Linked DNA regions of Homo sapiens: regions 1, 2, 4 and 5 are each reported to be linked to region 3. Evidence: microRNA targets listed by miRTarBase, many of them from high-throughput screens and not tested one by one. Region 3 holds a microRNA gene; each other region holds the end of a gene's coding sequence.
Evidence for each region. The annotated mature microRNA hsa-miR-939-3p reads CCCUGGGCCUCUGCUCCCCAG and lies in region 3 at 2,870-2,890, opposite strand. An mRNA with a match to its seed (bases 2 to 7 or 8) in the 3' UTR can be bound and repressed. Matches are read on the target gene's strand: a 7mer-m8 pairs with bases 2 to 8, a 7mer-A1 pairs with bases 2 to 7 and ends in A, and an 8mer does both.

Region 1 (4,205 bases), not on the chromosome of region 3:
AAGCTTTAACCTTTAGTTATCCAATTTTTGGTACCCAAATGAATACACAGGACTGGGTCTTAGACTTTTTTGGTAGCCCTTACAGGTTTAATAAAGTGGCACGTAGTGAATTTTAGTGAATTGATTGAATGAGAGAATTCTTTCTTTAGTGATAGGCATATTTCATTAATTCTGAGTTGCACATTTTTTCACATTTTAGCATCTGTGAAATGAGGATGCATTCTATAATCCATGGCTACATGACGATCATGATACAATTGTGACAGCCTCTGTAAAACATAGCCATAATTCCTTTGTCTTACCTAAGATAATTAACAGTAGTAATTCATAGTACTAATTATCTTACCTAAGATAATTAACAGTAGTAGTAGTATTGTCATCAAATTTCTGGGAGTCAAACTTTAAAAGATAGCCCAAATAATCAGTTATATCATAAATTCAGTTATTCTATATATTAACATATCCAGAGTCTGGGTGTTGTGGCTCATGCCTGTGATCTCAGCACTTTGGGAGGCTGAGGCAGGAGGATCAGTTGAGCCCAGGAGTTATTATGATGGCACCACTGCACTGCATCCTGGGTGACAAAGCAAGACGCTATCTCTAATAATAACATATCCAGATACTTTTACCAGTTGTTGTTACTATAAATTAGGTAATTCAAATTTTCCTAAAATTATATTAATAGTTTTTGCTGTTTTACAGAGTAAGCCATATCAAAGACTTCATTGAAAAATACCAAGGATCTCAAAGAAGTCCTCCGTTTTCCCTGGCAACAGCTCTTCCTGTCCTCAGGTTGCTAGATGAGACACTCACACTGGAAGAAGCAGATTTACAGAATGCTGTCATCATTCAGAGACTCCAAAAAACTGCATCTTTTAGAGAACTTTCAGAGCACTGATTTTTGATAGACTAAGTGGAAAATTTGCAGAGAAATGATGGTTGTAAGTGGACATGCAAACCAAAATTGGGGATTGGAGAAGTCAGACTCACTAGACTTTTGGTTCGAGTACTATTGAACTCTCTCCTGATGAGAAGATGTTTAGATAAGTACAAGTTAAGAAAGTAGCATATGACTGGAAACTATATTCAGTGCACTTTCTCCAAAAGACTACCCAGAAAAATAGACTTATTTTCAAATACCAGTTATCAAGATATATTAAATAGCTGTATTGTTTAGAATCTTAATATGGTATAAATTAGCATATGTATTCACAATATTCATTCAGACATCATTCCCAGACAGCAGGGATTTATTTAAATGTTAGCTGTCTGAGTTTTTAAATAGCTAATACGACCGGGTACAGTGGTTCATGCCTGTAATCCCAGAACTTCGGGAGGCCGAGACAGGCAGATCACGAGGTCAACAGATTGAGACCATCCTGGCAAACATGGTGAAACCCCATCTCTAGTAAAAATACAAAAATTAGCTGGGCGTGGCGGTGCGCAACTGTAGTCCCAGCTACTCGGGAGGCTGAGGCAGGAGAATCTCTTGAACCTGGCAAGTGTAGGTTGCAGTGAGCTGAGATTGAGCAACTGTACTCCAGCTTGGCGACAGAGCAAGACCCCCTCTCAAAAATAAATAAAATAAAGTAAAATAAATATAAATAATTGTGGCCGGGTGCAATGGCTCATGCCTGTAATCCCAGCACTTTGGGAGGCTGAGATGGGAGGATCACTTGAAGCCAGGAGTTTAAAACCAGAATGATCAACAGAGTGAGACCCCTGTCTATATATTTTTTTAATTTAAAAAATAAAAGAATAAAATTGTGTAGCTCAGTATAGTATCAAGATTAATCTGCCTACTCACATTTCTACACTTTATAAAAATGTAATAAAAGAAAATTATCTTTCTAAAAAGCCTATTCCCTTTCCATTTTATTTTCTTTCAAAAATTATGGATTTGTTTTTGGCTAACATTTGGGATTAGCCATTCATTTGCCACCACTCACTTAGAATATAATGCCGGTGTGTGTCACATTACTAGTATTTTTTAAATGCATCATATAAAGTATGGTTTTCTGTTTCTTTTTCGTTTGTTTGAGATGGAGTTTCGCTCTTGTTGCCCAGGCTGGAGTGCAGTGGCGCAATCTCAGCTCACCACAACCTCCACCTCCCGGGTTCAAGAGATTCTCCTGCTCAGCCTCCCAAGTAGCTGGGATTACAGGCATGCGCCACCATGCTTGGCTAATTTTGCATTTTTAGTAGACACGGGATTTCACCATGTTGGTCAGGCTGGTCTCGAACTCCCGACCTCAGGGGATCTGCCTGCCTAGGCCTCCTGAAGTGCTGGGATTACAAGTGTGAACCACCGTGCCCAGCTGGTTTTCTGTTTCATACATCAGAGTCAACTTGTGAATACATTTAAAGATTATTTCATTTTGATATCACGAAGAAAAACAGGCTTTATATCTCAGACTTTAACTAAATCCAGTTAGACCTCAATTTTTCACTGTCAGATTAAATCCCCATACCTGAAAATAAGTTTAACATTTTTTTTTGCAAATGATCTATTGAATCAGATTTAAAATGAAGCATGCATTGAGTGTGCCAAGGAACTAAGTGGTCCATAGCAGCAGTAATGTTCATAGGGTGCGAGATGCCTGCTATGAAACAGCAACTCTCAAACATTTTTATCTCAAGACCATTTGTTTATGTGAGCTATATATATTATTATATTAAATATTAAATTTTTAAAATATTTATTTATGGGCCAGGCACGGTGGCTTACGCCTGTAATCCCAGCACTTTGGGAGGCTGAGGCAGGCGGATCACAAGGTCAAGTGATTGAGACCATCCTGTCCAACATGGTGAATCCCCGTCTCTACTAAAAATACAAAAAAAATTAGCTGGGTGTGGTGGCATGCGCCTGTAGTCCCAGCTACGTGGGAGGCTGAGGGAGGAGAATGGCTTGAACCCGGGAGGTGGAGGTTTCAGTGAGCCGAGATTGCGCCCCTGCACTCCAGCCTGGTGACGGAGCGAGACTCTTTCTCAAAAAAAAAAAATTATTCATTTAAAAATAACTTCTGGCTGGACATGGTGTCTCACGCCTGTAATCCTAGCACTTTGGGAGGCCAAGACAGGTGGATCACTTGAGCCCAGGAGTTTGAGACCAGCCTGGGCAACAAGGCAAAACTCTATCTATAAAAATTACAAAAATTAGTGCAGTAGCTCACACCTGTAATCCCAGCACTTTGGGACACTAAAGCGGGCAGATCACCTGAGGTCAGGAGTTCGAGACCAGCCTGGTCAATGTGGTGAAACCATGTCTGTACTAAAAATACAAAAATTAGCCTGGTGTGGTGGCACATGCCTGTAATCTCAGCTACTAGGGAGGCTGAGGGAGGAGAATTGCTTGAACTCAGGAGGCAGAGGTTGCAGTGAGCCGAGATTGCGCCACTGCACTCTAGCTTAGGCAACAGAGTAAGACCCTGCCGTAATAATAATAACTTTTTTTTTTTTGAGATAGAGTTTTGCTCTTTCCCCCAGACTAGAGTGCAATGGCGCGATCTTGGCTCACTGCAACTTGTCCCCCCGGGTTCAAGCGATTCTTCTGCCACAGCCTCCCGAGTAGCTGGGATTATAGGCGCCCACTACCACGCCTGGCTAATTTTTGTATTTTTAGTAGAGACGGGGTTTCGCCATGTTGGCCTGGCTGGCCTCTAACTCGTAACCTCAGGTGATCCGCCCGCCTTGGCCTCCCAAAGTGCTAGGATTATAGGCGTGAGCCACTGTGCCCAGCCAATAATAACTTATAAAACATGAAACGATTTAGTGAGAAAAGTGGCCGGTTTTTTGGGGGGAATTACTTTCTGTCATAAAGAAGATAGATGGGTTCTCATGTCTTCTACATTCAGTCTGTTGTGCAGTCACATATCATGTAGACTCTGGAAAACACCTCTGTATACTGGTGAAAGAATGAAAAGAAGCAAATAATGCCTTAGTATGATTATGAAAAACGTTTTGACTTCACAGTGCCCTGAATGGGTCTTGGGAATCTCCAGGGATCCCTCAGGCACACTTTGAGAACCAATCTATATAAAGTGATGGTTCACAATGATTCTGAAGCCTTAGTTTCAGAATCATTTGGGGCAGCTTTTCAAAAATGCCATTCCTGCCACCTACCACAAAGATTCTGATTCACTGTATCTGTGATGGGTCTCAGATCTCTGCATTTTTAATCTCACGTGATTCTTAAGTATGTGGTG
Region 2 (4,054 bases), not on the chromosome of region 3:
CAGGCTGGAGTACAATGGCGTGATCTCAGCTCACTGCAACCTCTGCCTCTGGGGTTCAGGTGATTCTCCTGTCTCAGCCTCCTGAGTAGCTGGGATTACGGGCACCCGTCACTACGCTCGGCTAATTTTTGGTATTTTTAGTAGAGATGGGGGTTTCACCATGTTGGACAGGCTGGTCTTGAACTCCTGACCTCAGGTGATCCTACCACCTCAGCCTCTCAAAGTGCTGGGATTACAGGCGTGAGCCACTGTGCCCGGCCACCCCTTGGTAATTGGGAACATATGAGTTAGAATGGCTGAGATCTAGAAGTGAGGACTAGCCACTTTTGGAAATGTTGACCCGCATCAAGAACACACCGATTGGTTTAGTTGCCACAACTGGGACAGGGAAGCCACGCACCATTCCTTCTGAGCCTTGAATCAAAAAAATACTAAGCAGAAAGCAGCATTCAACATTAAGACTGCCCAATTTCTAGTGCTGATACTTCCTTAGCCCAGTATGGAGGTCACACGTCTGAGTATGGTCATCCGAGGTCCTGGGAGAGAGTTTTTTGAATGTCCCACTTAGAAAATGCACAGAGAGGGAGTTGGGGAGGGGGGTGGGCTAGGGAGATGGGGGTTGGTTCACAGTGATCAAACAGAAGTCTCACAACCCGTCATGTAGCAAAACCTAGCAATATTCTGTTGGAGCAGATCCTGGGAAGTGCTTGATGGCTACCACCAATGAGTTGCTATAGATAAAGAAGGAAGACGCTGTTTTTCCAAGATCAGAAGGTCACTTAAATGCTGGGGTCCATCTAGAAGAGGAAAAGTGCTGTTGGGCTGCCCATCCCTGGCAAGCTGTTCATGTGCCCTCTGTCCTCATCCTGTCCACAGGGCAGCGAGAGCCTGGGGCATGTGGCTGAAAGGAGTTGGAGCCGCTGGCTCTGTCCTTTCTCATTTTCTCTGACCCAAGAGCTCCAAATGATCTCCTTGCTTTGGGATCCAAGTCAGTAACAGTCCAGCACCTTGGCCTTTCTTCTGATTCTTGAAGGCTGATGTAGCCGGGCAGAAAGATGAGCCTTGCTAGAGTCACACCTGAAGTTCTGATTGCTCCAAGCATCTCTTTGTAGGCTGTTGCTGCTTAAGGGAGGTTAGTAATAAATACTAAGGGTAGCAAACCAAGTATAGGGTTCTTCCCTGATGGGAGCAATTGCATCTGATCTTCCGGGTTTGTCAATTGCGTAGAAGGTGGAACGATCTTCCTATTCAAGAGGATGCCAAGGCAGACGTCTGCAGAAAGGAGTTGGGAATCACTCCCACACTCCGTCTCTGGGCCAAGGGAGACGGCCCGCTTGACAGAGACCATTCACGGACAGTTCATTCCGGCAGGGAAGTAGTGTTGTTGATCTCACCAGCTCCATTCAAGCATGTGATCAAGTTTTTGAGCCTCGTCACGGGAACTGGGCTGTGTGAACCCTCTTGTCCCTCTTTCTGTTGTCTTCTCCCTTGTAAAGGCGGACAGAGGCTTTCCGCCGGGATTCAGCTTTAGGAGGGAAAGGCACTCACTCTCCTTCTGCTTTTTGAGGAAAGCTGTCACTCAGCAGCTCCGCCTGACCCTGGAGCATGGACTGGGTGGGCCAGCACTTGGTCAGTGTGGAGGCGGAGATGGAGCACCGAGAGGCCTGGGCAGCACCATCGCTGGAGCTACCACAGTTGGGGGGCCCTGGAGACTCAGCCCCAGGGGTGTGCCCTTTGGGAGAGTTGGCTATGTGAGTGAAACTTAAAAAAAAAAACAAAACCAAAAAACCCAACCAACCACCATAAGAAGCAGTGGAAATCCATGGCACTGCCCAAAGAGGGGGAGAATGGCTTTGGCATTCACAGCCAGGACACTCCTGCCGTCCTTCTGACTGTGCAGATCTCAGGGTAGTGTCCTGGTTTGGAATCCATCAGCCCTCTGATGCTCACAAGTTTGTGCAAATGATGAAACTGAAAAGACTGAGAAGAAAACAGAAAAGAAAAGGCATAAGATCTTCCCTTTCCAAGCTGTCAACAAACAACAAGCAGCTCCTCTATTAAGGATACCCATTGTTGTGGGGGTCAAATAGTCAGCAGGACTGGATGTTGGTCCTCTCTGTTGAGTGGCCCTGCCCCCCACCACCCCTCTTCGTACCTAGGCTTGCTCATGGGCAGCACTGGCCAGCCTGGATGCTAACTAGGGAGGCGGGAAAAGAACAGAGATGACCATGGGTCCAAACAGAAAGGGTGTCGCTATGGAGGGAGTCTTTGGAAGTGTCATGCATGTCCTCGGCACTGGGTAATGGCAGTGGTGTGGCTGCCCCTGGGACTCCAAGGATTTGGCCTGTGGCTGGGGAAATAACACACACGAGATAGGTAACAAGGATTTACACTGACATATGGGGTGTTGGTTTGGCTCTATTCTTTTTCGGTTACCACTTCTTGCAGTGTAGGTGGAGATGCCTCTGTTCCTAAAAGACAATGATAATTTATGTTGCAAAGCACTCATGAATGCATTCATTCACTTAACCAACAAAACCTGCCACCATGGGGGCTCAAAAATACATTATAATTATAACCATGGTGTAATCACATAGTCCCCAAGTTTCGTGTCTAGGAATGACTAGGATCTGTCTATGGTTGGTGCCCAGAGTCAGTCAAGTCCACTAAGAGTGAACAGTCTTGGCTGTGATCAAGTTGACTGCTTTCGACATGCAGACAACAACATATAGACTCGAGGTGATGGATGGCAAGTCTCTGGGCTGGCAGCCTGAATGTGACTCCATGCCACTCCATTTCTCAGCACCTGATCCCTTCTTTTTTTTTTTTTTTTTTTTTTGAGATGGAGTCTCGCTCTGTTGCCCAGGCTGGAGTGCAGTGGCGCGATCTCGGCTCACTGCAAGCTCCGCCTCCCGGGTTCACGCCATTCTCCTGCCTCAGCCTCCTGAGTAGCTGGGACTACAGGCGCCCACCACCACGCCAGGCTAATTTTTTGTATTTTTAGTAGAGACGGGGTTTCACCGTGTTAGCCAGGATGGTCTCGATCTCCTGACCTCGTGATCCGCCCGCCTCGGCCTCCCAAAGTGCTGGGATTATAGGCGTGAGCCACCACGCCCGGCCTAGCACCTGATCCCTTCTGTCTTTTGGCAATTGTTGCCCTTCACTGGCTCTAGATAGACAGAACCTTGTAATTCACTTGTCCCTGTCTGCCAGATCTCGACTGACCACTATTTATTCATTTTTCAACTCTCTGCTGGCCAGAAACTAAATTCCCAGGGAGTTGGCAAGGCTAGCTGGGCCTGGGAGGGAATGGCAGTGAGTGAGTTATGATCAATGTTTAGGTCTTAAAAGGTGACAACAAAAGCTTTCAAATCACCATAACTTCACCCAAAGTTAGGCTTAAAGGTTATTTACAACGGAAGAGAAAACAGGTTCCATGAGGAGAGAAGAGAAGGAAGAAGCCACCGATCTGGTGGGTTCCTTGTTCTGTTCCATTCTAGGGGAAGGCCCTGGCCACACAGCTTCCCCTCCCTGCTGCGGGTTAGTGCCCATCCTTGGAGTCAGCTTACCTTCTTCCCAGCCCTCAGCAACACCAGCAAGCTCGTAGTGCTTTTTCCGAAGCTCTCCCAGTTTTTGACGCTCCTTCTGCAATTCATTTTCTAGCTCTAGCACCCTAACCTGTAAGGGAAATTAAGTGGGATTTTCTCTTAATCATCTCTCAGAGATTTAATTTTTATTTATTTTTTTATAGAGATGGGGTCTTGTTCTGCTGCCCAGGCTGGTAGTGAACTCCTGGCCTCAAGAGATCCTCCTGTCTTGGCCTCCCAAAGTGCTGAGATTACAGGCATGAAACACCATGCCCAGCCTACATCTATCTTATTTTGATTACTCCCTTTCTGCTGCATTGTGAATTCCTCTTCTTCCATATTATTCACCGTTTCCATACTTTATCTGGCCCTCAATTTCAATTCTCTTCTTTGCTCTAATTTTTCCATTCTCCCATTCATTTATCTATCCCAGTAGCTCTTATGCTTTACTCACTGTGATCTTCTAC
Region 3 (4,205 bases):
TGTTCAGCAGTGGGCTGGGGCGGGGCACAGTGGGGCCCCAAGTTCTCACCACACCCTCGCCCAGTGCAGGTGCAGTACATCGACCTGCGGGACCGCTTTGATGGGGACATCCACACCCTGGAGCTCCTGCTGCGGCTCGTTGAGGTCATGCACCCCAGCTTTGGCTTCAGCTGGGTCCTCCAGGTACAGCCCCACCCCTTCCCCGGCCAGCAGGAGCAAACACGTAGGCAGAGCTGGTAGGAGCAGCTGGTAGGCAGAGCTGGTCTTCAACCGCCATCTGGCCCCCAGGACCTGAAGGGGACCCTGGCCCAGGAGCTGGACTTCGAGAATGAGGGCCGCAACGCAGAGCGCTGTGCGCGGGAGCTGGCGCACTTCCCCTACGTCGTGGTGCCCCGCGTGCACTGGGACAAGTCCAGCAAGGTGGGCTGGGCCAGGCCCTTGGGGTGGGCACAGCGCTGGGCCTGCTGAGCCCAGCCTCTTGCTCTCCCCAGCGCGTGCTCACTGCCGACTTCTGCGCCGGCTGCAAGGTCAACGATGTGGAGGCCATCAGGAGCCAGGGGCTGGCAGTGCATGACGTGAGTGCGGGGGGGCGGGGGCGGGTCAGGGCGGGCTGGTGCTGTGTCCACTGCAATGCCTCTCCTCTCCCCAGATAGCAGAAAAGCTCATCAAGGCCTTTGCTGAGCAGATATTTTACACCGGCTTCATCCACTCGGACCCACATCCTGGCAACGGTAGGAATTTACCCCAGGGGTGGGGGTCTCAGGGTGGGCGCAGCGCGACCTAAGAGGCTGTATCCCTAGTTCTGGTGCGGAAAGGCCCGGACGGGAAAGCGGAGCTGGTGCTGCTGGACCACGGGCTCTACCAGTTCCTGGAGGAGAAGTGAGCGCGGGTGGGTGGGCGTGGGGCAGGGCAAGCCTCTCCTGCCGCAGGGAGCTCATGGCTGCGGGCCCATCCACACCCAGGGACCGCGCAGCCCTCTGCCAGCTGTGGCGGGCCATCATCCTGCGGGACGACGCCGCCATGAGGGCGCACGCAGCCGCACTGGGGGTGCAAGGTGAGGGCGTGCGGGGATGGCTGGGGCACCACAGAAGGGAGTCGGGCGGCGCGGAACCCACTCAGAGCCCCCTCCCTCCCTCCCTCCCTCCCTCCCCAGACTACCTCCTGTTCGCCGAGATGCTCATGCAGCGCCCCGTGCGCCTGGGGCAGCTGTGGGGCTCGCACCTACTGAGCCGCGAAGAGGCGGCCTACATGGTGGACATGGCCCGCGAGCGCTTCGAGGCCGTCATGGCGGTGCTCAGGGAGCTGCCGCGGCCCATGCTGCTGGTGCTGCGCAACATCAACACCGTGCGCGCTATCAACGTGGCCCTCGGCGCCCCCGTGGACCGCTACTTCCTTATGGCTAAAAGGTCGGTGGCCCGAGGAGGCGCCCGGGCCGTGGTGGGGCTGGTGTGGGGCTGACGCGGCGCTAACGCGGGTGTGTGCAGGGCTGTCCGGGGCTGGAGCCGCCTGGCGGGCGCCACGTATCGGGGTGTCTACGGCACCAGCCTCCTGCGCCACGCCAAGGTCGTCTGGGAGATGCTCAAGTTTGAAGTGGCGCTCAGGTGAGTGGCCGCGGGGCAGGTGGGTGGCGGGGGCCTGCTCCCCACCCACCTGTGACCTGTGACCTGACCCACGCAGGCTGGAGACCTTGGCCATGCGGCTGACCGCCCTCCTGGCTCGTGCTCTGGTCCACCTGAGCCTCGTGCCCCCAGCGGAGGAGCTCTACCAGTACCTGGAGACCTAGGGTGCAGCCGCCCAGGGCCGGCGGGGCCCTTTTCACCTTGGGCTGACGGAGGTGGCGGGGCTAGAGGTGTAGACACCCCGAGCCCCGTGGGCACTCGCACTGGGGGGCTGTGACAGCAGCTGGGCCAGGAGGCCGTGTAATGACCACACACTCCTCTCAAGCAAAAAATGTTTTTCCTTGTGTTTTGTACAAAAAGGGGGTGGGAGGTAGTTCCGTGTGCTGGTGGTGACGGCATCCACGGGGCTAGAAGTGGGCGGTGACGCGGTCCGTCTCCAGCAAGTCGTCCAGGATCTGCAGGGGATGGAAGGGTGGGTGGGTGGGTGGGTGGGGATGCACACGGAGGGGCGGGGCGCGCGGGGGGCGGGGCGCGCACTCACTATGTCTGGTGTGGTGCCGATCTTCTTGGCTAGCTCGCTGCGCTCCATGGTGCTCAGGTACAGGTAGCGGTTGAGCAGCTCCCCATCCAGCACGTTGCGCACGGCATTCTGGAGGGTGCGGCGGTCCACGTGCAGCATCCTGGGGCGTACAGGCACAGGTGTCAGGGCAGGCTGGGGTGGAGGGGGTGCTGCACGGGGGCGGGGCCGGGGCTCACCGGAAGGCGCGGGGGTTGAGGCCGGCGTGGTGTGGCAGCATGGTGGTCAGCGCGTTCTGCAGCATCAGCAGCCGCCGGTAGGTCTTCTCCTGCATGGGCAGCAGCAGCCCGATGCCGCCGTCCAGGGTGGCTGGCAGGGGTAGGGTGAGGGTTTTGGTGTGAGCCAGGCCAACCCTAGGGCCCCCCACCCAGACACACCTGCTCCCCCACACTCACCAAACCACGTGATGTGCTTATTCTCCCACACGACCGACTTTTTGCTGAGCCCTTCAGTGGCCCCCCGGCACGGGGTCCTCCAGAACGTGTTCACGTGGGCACCCACGTGGAAGTCTGCCCGACGCAGCAGGCGCATGCCCCCGAAACTCTCCTTGGCTAGACCAGAAAGGCCTAGGGGTCACTGCTAGCCCAGCCCCGGCCCAGGCAGAGGGGGTGGAGGAAGCACTCACCTTCGGGCAGGTACATGTACACCATGAGGTTGCGGTCGCGGTCAGACACTGGGGAGCAGAGGCCCAGGGTCAGCCCCGGCCACCCCCAGAGCCTCAGCTCCCCAGGGCCCTGCCCACATACCCAGAAAACCCAGCTGGGCATTGTCCACCATGAAGTCCACGCTGTACACCTCCAGGGGCTTGGCATCCTGGGGGCGGGAAGGGGGCGTCAGAGGTGCCTTGGGCGGGTACCCACCCAGACACGAGCACCGCCGCCACAGGTGTACCCGCGACACCAGGCTCAGCGTCTTGCTTTCCTCCTGGTAGCGCAGCAGCGAAATGCTCTTCATGACGTCGGCTGCCAGGATGAAGTTCTTGACGCTGATCATCTGGTGTATGTAGAGCTGCGTGTCGATGAAGGCCATGCCCGTCAGCTCGCTGGCCCGCAGGCTCCACAGGAAAATCTGGGGGCGAGGGCGAGGGTGAGCGGGCGCGGACGGGGAGCCGGGTGAGGGTGAGCCGGGGGACACACGCCGGGTGGGACTGGCACACCTTCTGGCCGATGGCCGACACCAGGTGGCCATTGCAGTGGCACAGGGCGGTCACGGGCCCCTTCTGCTCCTTCTCGTAAAGGACTTTGAACTTGTTCTTGGTCAAGGGCTGGCCAGGCTCGGGCACCACCTCAATCACATCCATGATCAAGATCTGGAGGGCATGGGTATGGCTGTGGGATGGCTGTGGGGATGGCAGAGGGGCTGCCAGTTCCCGCCCCCGCTCACTGGCCCCTTACCCGCCCTCGGCACGTGACCTCCTCCCCCTGCATGAGGCAGGTCCCGGCGGCCACGTAGCCTTTGAGGCCCGACACGGTCTCCTCACTGCGCAGAGACACTGTCTTCATGCAGGTCACATGCTCCCACTCCTGCAGCTCGATCCTGTGGGGGCCAGGGGCCTCAGGATGCTGCCTGGAGGCCTTGGGCAGACCCCACCCCCGCCGGCCCAGCCTCACCTGGCATTGGGAATAGCCTCCCAGCTGACCGGGGAGATGAGCTGGATGGAGAAGGCCTCCTGCTGGGGGTGGATGTACCGCTCATCTGTGGGGACCAAGGGTGACAGTCAGAGTAGGGCTTCCCCAAGATGCGGCTGAGGATGGGAGTATGGTGTGGGCGTCACCACCTCTCTCGATGGTCTCAAACTCCTTCTCCTCGCCAGTCATGCGTGGGATGCGGGCACACGGCGTGTTGGTGCTGGTGGCCACAGCATACACCTGTGGGTTAGTGAGGGTCACACACCAGTGGCCCGGCCAGGCCCAGAAGGTCCCTGGTGGGGTGGGGGTGGGGGCAGACCTTAGACTCCACGTGGTAAGCCACATAGTGGGCCGTGCAGCGCAGCGGGATCTTCCTGACAG
Region 4 (4,205 bases), not on the chromosome of region 3:
GGGAAACAGATAAGACACCATTAAAAAGTAAGAACACTTAAGATCACATAGATAATTTTAGACAGGAGTGTGCGCTATAAAGAAAACAGGTAATGGAGAGAAAGTGAGGTGGTGAATTTGTGAACCTCCTTTGGTTCACAAATTCCTCCTTGGAAAAGTGAGGGGTGGTCTTTGTTGAGGAGATAGAGTTGAATTGGGAAGAAGGGAGCCATACAGGGATTGAGGGGGAGGACATTCCAGAGGAAGGAACAGTAAATGAAAAAGTTCTAAGGCAGGAATGGAGGAGGATCATGTAGGGGTTCATAGGGCACAGTGAAGGGAATGAAATTTGTCCTATCCACAATCCCAAGACTTGGAATGCACTTTTGTAGGAGAGTGCCTTGATGTGATTTACATTTCAAGCCACGTCCACACTAGTGAGGACACAGAGCAGTGCCAGCTCTTTGTGGTCCTACCTTTTGATGCAAAGGGACACAGGTCAGAGGATGAGCTGCTGGTCACTCTGCATTACTTTTGCATGGGATTCTTCTCAACATCACTCTCAGTGCACACAGCTTCCTTCCCGACAGGGGTGGGACAATTACTCAGGACCAGCGAGGCCACGCACAACCACACCATGGGGCTGACTTTTCCAAGGCCCCCGTGGCAGAGCCTGATCTCCCCTGAGCACTTGGGATGCAGGTGCACCTTGAGACCGCCAGGGGCTGGCTGAACCAATGCTCTCTGCAAGGCTCTTCCCTGTGGGCCTCTGCCAGCCTTGGTCCCTGACAGAGCAGCCTGGGAAAATCTCCAGGGCCCCTGCTGCCCAGTCTCGTGGCCATTGGCCATTTAGAGCAAGACTCCTTCTGTAAGCCCCATTCAACTGGACCCTGGTTTCTCTTGCAGCTCCCCCTACAAACTATGGACTCTATGAGCAGCTCAAGCAGAGACAGCTCACACCCAAGGCTGGCCTGAAGCAGAGCACTTATACTTCATCCTACCCCAGACCACCGTTGTGCGCTATGTCCTGGAGGGAGCATGCGGTCCCGGTCCCTCCCCATCGCCTGCATCCTCTCCCACACTTCTGAGAGCTGCCACCCCAGGAGCAGCTCAGATAGAATCAGCTGGAGACCACAGCATCACTGGACTTGCCAGACAACAAGTGGCGCAGATAAACTCAGAGTACGAGATCTGGCCCGTCAAAGGTGCTCTCAGAATCATCATCTGCATTTGGCGGTACCTGTCCCCCCTCAAAACCCACAGGTTCCTTTCTTTTCCATCCAACAATTAAAGATCTTTGACACTATTGCAGGGCTATGTACGTGCACAAGACAGATTCAGACTGTCAGAGAAAACAGGAAGGGCCCTTAAGTTCTACCCTGTTGTTTCACAAGAGGGGAAACTGAGGCCCGGAGAGGTAATGTGACTTGCTGAAGAGTCTACTCCCATGGAGGAAATGAATCTGATGATGAAACCCATCATGAAAACTCCACAGAATGACTGAATGTGGTTCCCAGGAGGGCAGTGCTGCAGAGCTGGCAATGGGGAAGGACCCCAGCTTGTCTGTCATTGCCAAGGCAGAGGAAGGCGTGCTCTGGCCCCACGGGGCTCAGAAGAAGGGGAAAACACATGGCATTTCCTTTGTCTCTGAGCTCGCAAATCTTTGTGTTTTTTTTTTTGTTTTTTTTTTTGAGACGGAGTGTCGCTCTCTTGCCCAGGCTGGAGTGCCGTGGCACGATCTCAGCTCACTGCAACCTCTGCCTCCAGGGTTCAAGCGATTCTTTTGCCTCAGCCTCCTGAGTAGCTGGGACTACAGGTGCGCACCACTACGCCTGGCTAATTTTTGTATTTTTAGTAGAGACAGGGTTTCACAATGTTGGCCAGGCTGGTCTCGAACTCCTGACCTCGTGATCCGCCTGCCTCGGCCTCCCAAAGTGCTGGGATTAGCAGGCGTGAGCCACCGCACCTGGCTGAGCTCTCAAATCTTTATGAGCCTGGGCAGAGGGGAGAACCTCTGGTGAGTGATTTGGGAGAGAGGGTGGATCTCCTAGCAGAAGAACTCAGGCATGGTCCTCGCCCAGGACAGGGGTCCACAAGTGTGCATGCTCAGTGCTCGCACAGAGCTGCCTCTTTGAAGAAATTCCAGCAGACACCTTTGGCCCTTTGCATGCTTGGCTCATGGGCACAGGTGTGTTTTGTCAGTGATTTTGTACTGCACACCAATAATATGACTCCCAGTATGGGAGCCTGAGTCTCTGCCATTGTTTTCACAGGATACCTGCTGGCCTCAGGCCACCTACCTTAGGGTCACTTTGGCACCTACTAAGTTCCTTCCTTAGTCATCCAAGTGTCCATGTAAGGACGCTGTCTTCCATCCCAACTGAAAGTCAGAGCCTGACACAGGCTAAGTCCTCTATGTTTGTTGGATGAGTGAATGACAGGAGTTGAACAAATGAGTTGAATGAATGAATGACAGGAGGAGGAGCCAGGGGGTGCAGAAAGGTTGCACCTACCTTAGGGTCACTTTGGCACCTACTAAGTTCCTTCCTTAGTCATCCAAGTGTCCATGTAAGGACGCTGTCTTCCATCCCAACTGAAAGTCAGAGCCTGACACAGGCTAAGTCCTCTATGTTTGTTGGATGAGTGGATGACAGGAGTTGAACAAATGAGTTGAATGAATGAATGACAGGAGGAGGAGCCAGGGGGTGCAGAAAGGTTGCTGCAGGAGACAGCTGTGGGATGGAGTGGAGCTGGCTGTCCTCACACCTCCAACATCCAGCCTTTCTATTGAGCATCCATTGAGCCATGTCTGGGCCAGGCCCTGACCTCACAGAGCCTCAGTCCAGCAGTCAGGGAGGAGCATGAGGTAAATGGCTGCAGGACAGAGAGGTGCTGCAGCTGGAGGCCCTGGGGGACAGCGATGGATTGCGAGGAGTGAGGGAGACCCAGGATATGCTAAGCAGGGGCGTCTAATCTTTTGGCTTCCCTGGGCTACATTGGAAGAAGAATTGTCTTGGGCCACACATAAAAAAATGAACAGGGGCTGGGCGCAGTGGCTCATGCCTGTAATTCCAGCACTTTGGGAGGCCTATATGGGCGGATCACCTGAGGTCAGGAGTTTGTGACTAGCCTGTCTAGCACAGTGAAACACTGTCTCTATTAAAAATACAAAAATGAGCTGGCATAGTGGTTCATGCCTGGAATCCCAGCTACTCCAGAGGCTGAGGCAGCAGAATCGCTTGAACCCAGGAGGCGGAGGTTTCAGTGAGACCAGATGGTACCACTGCACTCCAGCCTTGGTGACAGAGTGAGACTCCATCCCAAAAACAACAACAACAACAACAAACTTACACTAACGGTAGCTGATGAGCTAAAAAAAAAATCGCGTAAAAAAACCCCATAATGTTTTAAGTAAGTTTACAAATTTATGTTGGGCCACATTCAGCCTGCAGGCGGAGGGTTGGACAAGCTTGTGCGAAAGTAAAGGATGTCATGAGAGCAACGGGCAGGGGTTGACGGATGATGAATGAAGACCTGGCCTGCCTAGGTAGGGCCAGGGAGAATCAGGTAGGTCAAGGCCAGAAAGCTGAGGGAGATTACCCAGCTGAAGGGACAGGTTGGGAGGGAAGAGAGGGTGGCTTGGGCCATGGGGGCAACACGTTTGAAGTCTCTGACTTGGGAAGAAGCTGAGCAAATTCCTTAAAAGTCCAGAAAGACCATGCATTGGTCTCCTATTGCTGCTGGAACAAAATACCACAAACTCAGTGCCCTAAAGCAACACATGTTTATTTGACAGTTCTTATTATAAATGTGAATAAATGCACATTTATTCAGAATATCACAAGCTCAGTGCTTTAAAACAACACACATTTATCCTCTTGCAGTTCTCTTATGGGTAAGAGTCTACAGTGGTCCCCAGGGCTGCGTTGCTTCTAGAGGGTCTGGGGCAAATTGTTCCCTTGTCTTTTCCAGCTTCTAGGGCACATCACCGCTCCCATCTTATGGCGCCATCAGCTTGTCGAGAGCCAGCAGTGTAGCCTTCCTTCCTCTCTGTCTCCCCTTACAAGGATCCTTGTGACCACACTGCGCTCCCTGGATAAGCCAAGATAACCCCTTTCTCAAGATCCTTAATTTAATCACACCTATAAAATTCCTTCTGAATCTTAACTAACATAGTCACAGATTCCAGAATGAGGATATGGACATTCTAGAAGGGACGAGGAGAG
Region 5 (3,000 bases), not on the chromosome of region 3:
CGACTATGCTTTGTTAACAACTTCCAAAGCCAAATGTAAGTTGTTGTGACTAAAATGCCTCCCCAGTACATTTCTGGAGGATTAACCTTAATATGTTTAGCAGCTAGTCTGATTTCCACTCTACAAAAAGGAAAATGATGCTATAAGGGAAAGATAATGAACAAAGTTATAATATGTAAGACTTCCTGGGAAGAACTTGAACCATTACTAGGGAGACCAAGGAGAGGTGTTTCTGTTCCATACTATAGCAACCAGCCTTAACACTCTGTAATACAAAGTGCATTTCTGGTCCTACCCAGCCATAAATACCATACATCCCTTTTATTAATTATATCAAAGAAAGCCCAACTCTTCATCAACAAGATTTAGAATTTCCTAATAGCTTTAGTTTTTCCCTAAAAAAAACTGTGTAAAAGGAAAGCTCGAGTCTATAAACCAAAAAAAAAAACCCACAAATATTTACATGTACTCTGATTTAAACAATTTCAAATGAGATTAAACTGAATGAATATAGAACTTGTACCACCATTATAGAAGGAAAGAAAAAAAGCTTAAAAGGTACCCAAATATTTTAATATTTATGGAATTAAATGATACAATTTTCATTAAGACCCCAAATATCCCACCACTTTTTAGCTTTGCTGTATAATGAAGGTTAGTAACTTATATGTTAGTGTGAACACATTTACTTTGGCTGATAGCAAAACATAGATTTTTTAAAATGTTCTAAGAAGCCAAAGAATTAGACCAAAATGTTCAGCACCAAAAAACAAAACAAAAAAACTAGCTCAATACTTCAGGTTAAATACACAATATCAAGAAATTTTATTTAGGTCAGCACATGGCTGTTACTATGACTGATACTGCATGCTATTTCTAGAATTAGATATGTATCTTTCTGGCTGGATGCGGTGGCTCATGCCCGTAATTCTAGCACTTTCAGAGGCCAAGGTGGCCGATTGCCTGAGCTCAGGAGAGACCAGCCTGGGCAACATGGCGAAACCCCGTCTCTACTAAAAATACAAAAAATTAGCCAGGTGTGGTGGTGCACGCCTGTAGTCCCAGCTACTCAGGAGGCTGAGGCATGAGTATCGCTTGAACCTGGGACTCAGAGGTTGCAGTGAGCCAAGATTGTGGCACTGTACTCCAGCCTGGGTGACACAGCGAGACTCTGTCTCAAAAAAATAAAATAAAATAGATATATAACTTTCTGAAGATTTAAGCCAGACTTCAATTCCATGTACTCACCCATAGTACTAAAATGGATTAAAGATGGTAAATAAGGCCGGGTGTGGTGGCTTACGCCTGCAATCCCAGCACTTTGGGAGGCTGAGGCCAGCAGATCACAAGGTCAGGAGTTACAGACTAGCCTGGCCAACAGGGTGAAACCCTGTCTCTACTAAAAATACAAAAATTAGCCAGGTGTGGTGGTGCGTGCCTATAATCCCAGCTACTTGGAAGGCTGAGGCAGGAAAATTGCTTGAACCTGGGAGGCGGAGGTTGCAGTGAGCCAAGATCGCACCACTGCACTTCAGCTTGGGACAGCGTGAGACTCCGCTCAATTAAAAAAAAAAAAAAAAAAAAGATGGTAAATAAATCAGACAACTTGGTAAGAAAATGGCCTTTTTTACAGAACCAATTGGGAAGTTAGTGTCATGCATTAGCAGATAAGACTAGGAATACAGCTAAACCAATTATCAAAATATAGTTCTTCAGGGTATTTTTCAATGAAATGTTTAACTACTTGAAAACTACCTGGTCCAATTTTTTGTTTTCGCCCTGAGACGGAGTCTCACTTTGTCGCCCAGGCTGGAGTGCAGTGGCACAACCTCAGCTCACTGTAAACTCTGCCCTCCGAGTTCAAGCGATTCTCCTGCCTCAGCCTCCCGAGTAGCTGGGATTACAGGCACCTGCCACGGCACCCAGCTAATTTTTCATATTTTTAGTAGAGATGGGGTTTCACCATCTTGGCCAGGCTGGTCTTGAACTCCTGACCTCGTGATCCACCCGCCTTGGCCTCCCAAAGTGCTGGGATTACAGGCGTGAGCCACCACGCCCGGCCTACCTGGTCCAATTTTTAAGATGAATAAAATTCCAATATTTTCAGAAACACATGTGGGTAAAAAAGGTAACACTAAAGAATGGTATCTCAATATTCAATTTTAAAGAATTTATTTTCCCATTTGTAGAGTAACATTATTGTAAAATCTACAGTTATCGCAATACCTGCATTGCTTAAAAGAATTCCTAAGAATTTTGTTAAAGCATATTTTTTTTAAAAAACTGAACCAAAATAATGTACATTTTATCTCTAAACATTGTGTCATTAAAGTCCATATAACATCTTCCGTAAAATCAATGTGATGTTACAATTATATACATGATCTGATTCTTCTCCTAAAGGCTTCTCTGACCATGTATGATATCCAAGATAGATCCAATGCCTTTAATATCAGACTGTAGAGACAATTATGATCCTAAACAAAAGAAGGAAAAGCTGTATATACAAGACAGCAATATGACAGTTTAGCTGTTTGCAGCATCTGCTTGGCGGGGCCATCCTTCTTCTTCAACTCCAGAGTCATACTCCTCTTCAGAGGATTCTTTTGTTGGAGCCCTACAATGAAAAGCCATGTTTGTTTTTTTAAAATAAAAAATGGAGGTAAACATGATCTTTAAAATCAAAACAGCAAAGTAACCTCTCCTAGCTAAGAAAGCCACGATAATAGAAAATATTAGGAGCACTTTTAATATTAAGACGGCTTAGGCCGGACACAGTGGCTCACATCTGTAATCCCAGCATTTTGGAAGGCCGAGGAGGGCTGATCACTTGAGGTCAGGAGTTCGAGACCTGCCTGGCCAACATGTTGAAACCCCATCTCTACTAAAAATACAAAAATTAGCCGGGTGTGGTGGCACACACCTGTAGTCCCAGCTACTCAGGAGGCTGAGGCAAGGGAATCGCTTGAACCCAGGAAGTGGAGGTTGCAGTAAGCCGAA

Region 1: the mRNA of UBXN2A is a reported target of hsa-miR-939-3p. Seed matches in the 3' UTR shown: 7mer-m8 at 2,062-2,068 and 8mer at 3,094-3,101.
Region 2: the mRNA of HIP1 is a reported target of hsa-miR-939-3p. Seed matches in the 3' UTR shown: 7mer-m8 at 1,664-1,670, 7mer-A1 at 695-701 and 7mer-A1 at 535-541.
Region 4: the mRNA of CFAP107 is a reported target of hsa-miR-939-3p. Seed matches in the 3' UTR shown: 7mer-A1 at 1,078-1,084, 7mer-A1 at 1,492-1,498, 7mer-m8 at 1,692-1,698, 8mer at 2,055-2,062, 7mer-A1 at 2,924-2,930 and 7mer-A1 at 3,224-3,230.
Region 5: miRTarBase lists CLPX as a target of hsa-miR-939-3p. Seed matches in the 3' UTR shown: 7mer-m8 at 984-990 and 7mer-A1 at 184-190.

Annotation. Positions count from the first base shown.
Region 1 is chr2:23,998,970-24,003,174 of GRCh38, forward strand. UBXN2A (UBX domain protein 2A) reads left to right here. Exons shown (of 7, transcript NM_181713.4): 7 at 703-4,205. The coding sequence ends at 898. Among named protein-coding and RNA genes, the nearest start is that of MFSD2B, 9.0 kb to the right of the region's middle.
Region 2 is chr7:75,535,754-75,539,807 of GRCh38, forward strand. HIP1 (huntingtin interacting protein 1) reads right to left here. Exons shown (of 31, transcript NM_005338.7): 30 at 3,570-3,678; 31 at 1-2,471. The coding sequence ends at 2,419. Among named protein-coding and RNA genes, the nearest start is that of SPDYE5, 45 kb to the left of the region's middle.
Region 3 is chr8:144,391,292-144,395,496 of GRCh38, forward strand. MIR939 (microRNA 939) reads right to left here and starts at 2,939; the gene lies at 2,858-2,939. It overlaps ADCK5 (aarF domain containing kinase 5), which reads left to right. Exons shown (of 15, transcript NM_174922.5): 7 at 70-183; 8 at 289-420; 9 at 492-575; 10 at 650-731; 11 at 801-879; 12 at 963-1,054; 13 at 1,154-1,406; 14 at 1,485-1,601; 15 at 1,678-1,951. The coding sequence ends at 1,783. CPSF1 (cleavage and polyadenylation specific factor 1) reads right to left here. Exons shown (of 38, transcript NM_013291.3): 27 at 4,144-4,205; 28 at 3,974-4,064; 29 at 3,807-3,891; 30 at 3,591-3,732; 31 at 3,353-3,505; 32 at 3,088-3,264; 33 at 2,943-3,009; 34 at 2,822-2,869; 35 at 2,592-2,747; 36 at 2,376-2,505; 37 at 2,161-2,299; 38 at 1,940-2,074. The coding sequence ends at 2,027. RefSeq lists a silencer at 2,890-3,051.
Region 4 is chr1:12,759,885-12,764,089 of GRCh38, forward strand. It overlaps CFAP107 (cilia and flagella associated protein 107), which reads left to right. Exons shown (of 4, transcript NM_152290.4): 4 at 886-3,815. The coding sequence ends at 1,067. Among named protein-coding and RNA genes, the nearest start is that of PRAMEF12, 12 kb to the right of the region's middle.
Region 5 is chr15:65,148,297-65,151,296 of GRCh38, forward strand. CLPX (caseinolytic mitochondrial matrix peptidase chaperone subunit X) reads right to left here. Exons shown (of 14, transcript NM_006660.5): 14 at 1-2,617. The coding sequence ends at 2,527. Among named protein-coding and RNA genes, the nearest start is that of PDCD7, 16 kb to the left of the region's middle.